2 linked regions of the Homo sapiens genome follow. The gene in region 2 interacts genetically with the main gene of each other region. Each region holds a gene or a part of one and is shown on either strand. Other genes may lie near its edges.

Region 1 (3,500 bases), about 27 Mb from region 2:
TTAAGAGCCTACTTTACAGACCTCTATGCAGATAAATGTGAAAATCTACATGAAATGAAATGGATTATTTCCTAGAAAAAAACAGCTTAACAAAATTGACACCCTTAGAGATAAACTGCTTAAACATACTATATTCATAGGAAAAAAAAAAAAAGAAAAAGTGTTATCAGGGAGCTTCCCCATTTTAAAAAAGAAAAGAACTAGCTCATATGATTTTGCAGGGAATTCTACAAATCGTTCAAAGAATAGGTAATCTAAATGATCCACAGTTCTCTGTATTTGTTTTGTCTTGTTTTTTTTGTTTTTTTTTTTTTCTCAGACAGGGTATTGCCCTGTCATCCAGGCTAGGATGCAGTGGCACAATTATAGCTCACTGCAGCCTCGAATTCATGAGTTCAAGTGATCCTCCTGCCTCAGCCTCCCAAGTAGCTAGGACTACAAGTATGCGCCACCATGGCCAGAGAATTTTTAAATTTCTTTTTTGTAGGGACATCGATCATTATATTCCCCAGGTGAGTCCTGGGGATCCTCCTGGATTCAAGGGCTCCTCCTGCCTTGGTCTCCCAAAGTGCTGGATTACAGCCATGAGCCACTGAGTCTAGCCTGATGCACATATTGTTCCAAAGCACTGAAAATACTGGAAAAACATCCGAAATCTTTTATTAAGCAACCATAATACTGACACCTAAAACCTGATCAAAAGACAACACTCACACAAATACAGGTCAATATCAAGCTGTGCTTCATGACCTATATCCTCTTAAGTGATTCTGATGTCACAATTGGCTTATCTGGCCAGATATGGTGGCTCACATGTGTAATTCCAGCACTTTGGGAGGCTGATGCGGGAGGCTTGCTTGAGTTCAGGAGTTCAAGACCTGCTTGAGCAACATAGCAAGACCTTGTCTCTAAAAAATATTAAAAAATTAGACAGGGATAGTGTCACACCCCTGCAATCCCAGCTACTCAGGAGGCTAAGGCAGCAGGATCCCTTGAGCCCATGAGTTTGAGGTTATAGTGAGCTATGATCATGCTACTGCACTCCAGCCTGGGTGACAGAGCTAGATCCTCTCTCAAAAAAAAAAAGAAAGAAAAAGAAAAATAGCATTATTATATATCATGAGTCTGAATGTCTAGTTGAGCCTAAGACCCCTAGTGAGTACTACACTGCTTATAATTATTATTATAAAAGTGAATAAAGGCATGAAATATAAAATCATGTTTTAGAACATGCATACTACTGTATTCTTTGATCTTTATAGTACTGACATCTTAAAGTATATGCCTTTGCTATTTTATTAATCTCTTATAAAAATAAATTCAATATTTACTGAATTTACTGAATTGCCAGTATTTACTGAATTCCAAGAAATTCAATATTTACAACATAGAAAGACAAAAGTATATGTTCTCAAACTTTTGAAAATCAGATCTTTTCACAATCGAATGTAGAGGTTGGCAAGCTTTTTCTCTGAAGTCATTAGCAAATATTTTAGATTTTAGAGGCCATACAATCTCCGTTTCAACTATATACAACTCTGCTGTGGTAGCTGGAAATCAGCCACAGATAAAACATAAACAAATGAGTATGGCTGTGTGTCAGTAAAGCTTTATTTAAGGACACTGACATTTGAATTTCTTTTTTGTTTGTTTGTAGAGGCGGTGCCTTGCTATGTTGTGTAGGCTGGTCTCAAACTCGTAGCCTGAAGCAATCTTCCTGCCTTGGCTCCCAAAGCACTGGGATTATAGGCAGGAGCCACCACACCTGGCCTGAAATTTGAATTTCATGTAATTTTCACAAGTCACAAAATATTCTTTTCAATAATTTGAAAATGTGAAAACCATTCTTAGTTCAAAAGCCTTATAAAAACAGACAATGGACCAAATTTGGTCTTTGGGCTGTAGTTTGTCAACTCCTAATTTAATGAAAGGCAGAGACCCCATCCATATATGACAAACATATGTACGTGTATGCACAAATTTGCATCCAGTTTCTGGAAGTTGGGTCTATTTGCTCTCTAACGTCCTTGTTAACTTTAAAACTCTATGATCATTTTCAAACTCATTCTAATTAGAGGTCCTTTTTGGAATACTCCAATTACCTGAACTCATCACTCTAAGACAGGTTTTACAAAAACCTCTCCCCCACATACTGTGAGTTCTTACCTTCTTTTTGCTCTTTTTCTTTTGAAGAAATTTCAGGTCATTAGCGGAGTTAGCATATTCTATCTTTTAATTTCTACACTACTTCAAAGGTCTTCTAACTGTTCCATTTTCTACAAAGCATCCCACACAATGTGCTCATATCAGTCTTTCTAACACAAAGAGTGCTCAAAAGCCAACTGCCTGCTGTTTTTTATTTAATTTTTTTCAGTGACAGGTCTTGTTCTGTAGCCCATGCTGGAGTGCCCAGGCAAAACTCAATGCAGCCTCAAACTCCTGGGCTTAAACAATCCTCCAGTTTCAGCTTCCTGAGTAGCTGGGACTACAGGTGTGTGCCAGCATGCTCAACTACTTTTTAAATTGTTTGTAGAGATGGGAGTCTCGTTATGTTTCCCAGGCTGGTCTTGAACTCCTGGCCTCAAGTAATCCTTCTGTCACAGCCTCCCAAAGTGTTGGGATTCTGGGTATGAGCCACTGTGCCAGGCCTGTTTTTTTTTTTCTTAATTAATTTTTTTGTCCATTTTAAAAAATAATTTTTCAAAAAAGGTTAAATAAAACCTTAGCCTGGCTTTCAAGATGCTCTATTGTATGGCTACTGATATGGTTTGACTCTGTGTCCCCACCCAAATCTCATCTTGTAGCTCCCGTAATTCCCATGTGTTGTGGGAGGGGCCTGGTGGGAGATAATTGAATCATGGGGGTGGGTCTTTCCTGTGCTGTTCTCATGACGGTGAATAAGTCTCATGAGATCTGATGGTTTTATTTTTATTTTTTGGGGGATGGAGTATTACTCTGTCACCCAGGCAGCCTGGAGTGCAGTGGCACAGTCTTGGCTCACTGCAACCTCAGCCTCCCAGGTTCAAGTGATTCTCCTGCCTCAGCTTCCCAGGTAGCTGGGATTACAAGCACACGCCACCACTCCTGGCTAATTTCTGTATTTTTAGTAGAGATGGTATTTCACCACGTTGGGCAGGATGGTCTCGAACTCCTGAACTCAAGTGATCCACCCGCCTTGGCCTCCCAAAGTGCTAGGATTACAGGCATGAGCCACTACGCCTGGCTGAGATCTGATGGTTTTAAAAATGGGAGTTTCCCCGCACAAGCTCTCTCTCTTTGCCTGCTGCCATCCACGTGAGACATGACTTGCTCCTCCTTGCCTTCCGCCATGATTGTCCCCAGCTACGTGGAACTATAAGTCCATTAAACCTCTTTCTTTGGTAAATTGCCCAGTCTTGGGTATGACTTTATCAGCAGCATGAAAATGGACTAATACAGCTACTATTCCTCTGTACCACCTTACGGACTCTTACCAAGTGAAATTTGTTCACTGTTAAAAG
Region 2 (3,500 bases):
TGAGCCCAAGTACATATACACAGGTCCTGTATATAAAAGATGCAGTAAAAACAGTTATAATTCCAAGCTGAGATTTCTTAAAGCCACCACAGATTAATTTGCTATACATACTTTGAACTTTCTCTAAAACCCACCAAAATGGTTGCGTTTGTGGAAAAAAAAAAACTTATTAAGACTAGTCAGGAATAAATTAGCAGCAATAAAAAACAAGCAAACCTTCCCAATAAAAATAGTAATTACAACAAAATAAAAAGAACACAATGCAACATGAGCAAAAAAGGTATATTAGCTTTTCTAGTATAAATCTGGAACAGCTGGGTTACAGGAATACTGGAGTATCTGTACAACACTATGCCTTACCTGTTACCTACAAGGTAAACTTCAATATAATAAAAATCAAATTATAGTAGTAAACAAGGAGTTCGTTTAGATGTTTAACTTAATACAGTTAATAATCTTGTATCATTAGAACTTTCAGTGGATTAACAGTTATGCATTGCACTTAATCATAAAATACTTTCCCCTAACATCCATTTGTGAATAACAACGTCTACATTAGAAAGATTTCTGAGTTAAATGACCTACCCTCTGATGGAAAGAACTTCACACTGTTTTGCAAGTTTTAGTATATCTGGAATCACGTTTTCTTCCTGTAGCAAATTGAGACCCCAATTTGATGAGCCGATATTTCCCTGAAAGAAAAGAAATCACTTACATCAAATATAAGAGTCACTCTTTCAAAAGATTTGGAAAGCTACCAAGAAACAAATTTAACCTCATCTCTGAGAGAGAAAAAATGTAAAAGCCTCCTCAAGTACAAAACATTAGGCATGAATTAATTCTAGTTGTCTTAGCAACAAAACAAAAGTCATGAAACCAATAGTTCAACCATCTATTCTTCAACATAGAGATAATACACTTATATTGGCAGGAACAATCCAGTCTTAAATATTAATCTAATAAGTAGTTCCAAAGAAAATATTTATCTATTTAGTATAAATGAAAAAAAAACTTAAAAATCTAAAAATTGCGAAGATCTTACAGAAGTGTTTATTACAAACCAAGGCCCAAAGAGATGCTTTCAGTTTTTTAATTTCTTCCCACTTATCCAAATCTGGTGTACGAACATTACGACAGAGTTCTGTAATAATATTCTGGAGAAAGAAAAAAAAATACCATGAGTAATAATATATTTATGTATTTAATATATTATTATTGCATCATAAAACCAGTATAACGTTTGTTTTTTGTCATTTTTGCATATTTAAATTCTAAATAATTTTATGTAAAATTTCTTGAGAAGCAGCATAGGGCAGGGGTTCTGAATTCACATTCTAGAATTATCACTTATTAACTGCATGGCCTTGGGCAAGTTACTTCATCTCCTCATCCTTTGATTTCCTAATATCTAGAAGAGTGATAATAACATTTGCATCATAAGGTTTCAAGATTTAATAAATTATTGCACATACAGTGCTTACCAAAGTACTTGGCACTTAGTATTACTAAATAATCATACTTATTCTTTAAAACAGAAAGTAAATTAGTGCTTAGGTTTTATCATACTATGTAAGTAGTAACACTGAGAAAATCATTTAAATTTTTAGTGAAATTTTCAAATGTTAATATGAAAATACTTGTCCCAACAGTTTTCACAGACGTAATATAAAAACACATGAAACTATAGAGTACATTTATGCAAAACTTTGTGCTCTTGAGATGAATACTGATACAATCGGGAACTAAATTGTTAAATAACTATTGTTCTGTCACAAAAACAAATATTCCTATAACTTTATTTCTAAAATAAGAGAAACGTTACATTTATTGGAAACAGTTGCATGACATATTCACAACCATAAATGCGGTGTACATATTATAACTCAAAGAACAACTGCTTGCCTATGCTTGTTAACATTCCATGAAGTACGCGAGAATAAAATGTGCTCACAACCAGCAACTTTCAATTTATTGCTCAACAAGGATAACTTAATCTGTATTAGGTTCAGTTTAATTTCCCAATGAGTGGAAGAAAAACTCGGTTTTTCAGTACGTTTTTGGAGATCTGAATTTCTCCACTAAACTCTAAAAAAAGAACTCAGATCTTCATTGGATTGCTTACTCTACATAACAAGTTAGTTATTCAAAAAGTCATACACAAGTCAGTTAATGCATTGCAAGGCCATTAATATTTCTCAGGTTAATAAATATAGAATGCCTAAGTCAATTACAAAATAGATGAATTTAAAAGCAATTACACCACTGATATTAAAGCTTTTGAGAAGTTTTTGCAAAGGTAATATTTTAGCAATGTTAAGATTTTGTTTTTTTTTTACTATTGTAGCTACTTAAAATAAGTGAATTATGTTTTTACCTGTACTTCCAACAAATGGCAGCCTGTTTTATGGTGTACTAGTTGTCCATAAAGGTGTATAGGCAGGTAGACGTGAGGACGCTGTAATCTAGTATAATAAAGATGATTACTATATCTCTTGGCTAATTTAAATATGCTAATTAGAACAAAAGAATTTTAATAAATGTTTGATAAATAAAATTAGATACAACTCTCCAGCATAAATAAAAATATGAAAGTAACAAGGAATGAGGATTTCTCAGGTAAAATATAGGCTGGGCTTCCCTAATCCAAAATGATCCAAAATCCAAAACTTTTTGAGCACTGACATGACACTGTAAGTGGAAAATTCCACACATTAGTATTTAATGCAAACTATTTCATACAGAAAATTACTTATAACACTGCATAAAATTATGTTTAGGCTACGTGTATAAGGCGTATATGAAACAGATTAATTTCATGTTTAGACTTGGGTACCATTCCCAAGGTATCTCGTTATATATATGCAAATATTCCAAATCTGAAAAAATCTGAAATGCGAAACATTTCATCATTTTGGATAAGTGATGTTCAACCTGTAACAGTTTATCAGAGCTCAAAGTACTGGTAAGAGAATCTAGGCCTAGAAATACAGACTGGGGTGCCAGCATGGAGTATATGTGAATGCGTTATCAGTAAGGATATTCAACATGCCATGAATGCCACTGAATTTTTGAGCAATTAATGCTGCGCATTAAGATTCTTCCTATATCATGTTAGAAGCAGAATATACAAAAACTCAGAAATGTTAAAAATAATTTATGATGAACTAGTTTTAAATCTGATAACTGGGTACGCACCTTTGGTTACTCCGACGAACATAGTTATCACCATCAACAGGCTTCCGGTAAGTAGTAAGTGCTTCATTGAGTTGTTCCTCAATCAAGTCAACATATTTGGAGTTGTATTCCTAGAGGATAATATTGTTTTAATTGCACATAGTATCACAATGAGTCACTAAATTTAAAATATGTCAGATACTTAGCAAAGGGTAGACAGATCAAGGTATTATGAATGCAAATGTTCTATCATATCCATAAGCTTTTGGCTCAGGTTTCAACTAGTACTATATACTAATGACCCCCATATCTGCCATTTTCCTCAC

What was found.
Region 1: changes in RICTOR (region 2) and TRAPPC13 together harm fitness more than expected from each alone (negative genetic interaction), as found in Homo sapiens cells (one large-scale study listed by BioGRID).

Annotation. Positions count from the first base shown.
Region 1 is NC_000005.10:65,638,527-65,642,026, reverse strand, and holds part of TRAPPC13 (trafficking protein particle complex subunit 13), read right to left. Parts: intron 1-3,500.
Region 2 is NC_000005.10:38,952,400-38,955,899, forward strand, and holds part of RICTOR (rapamycin-insensitive companion of mTOR), read right to left. Parts: intron 3,306-3,500; coding exon 3,196-3,305; intron 2,463-3,195; coding exon 2,375-2,462; intron 1,155-2,374; coding exon 1,062-1,154; intron 693-1,061; coding exon 586-692; intron 27-585; coding exon 1-26. UniProt on the Homo sapiens protein: Component of the mechanistic target of rapamycin complex 2 (mTORC2), which transduces signals from growth factors to pathways involved in proliferation, cytoskeletal organization, lipogenesis and anabolic output.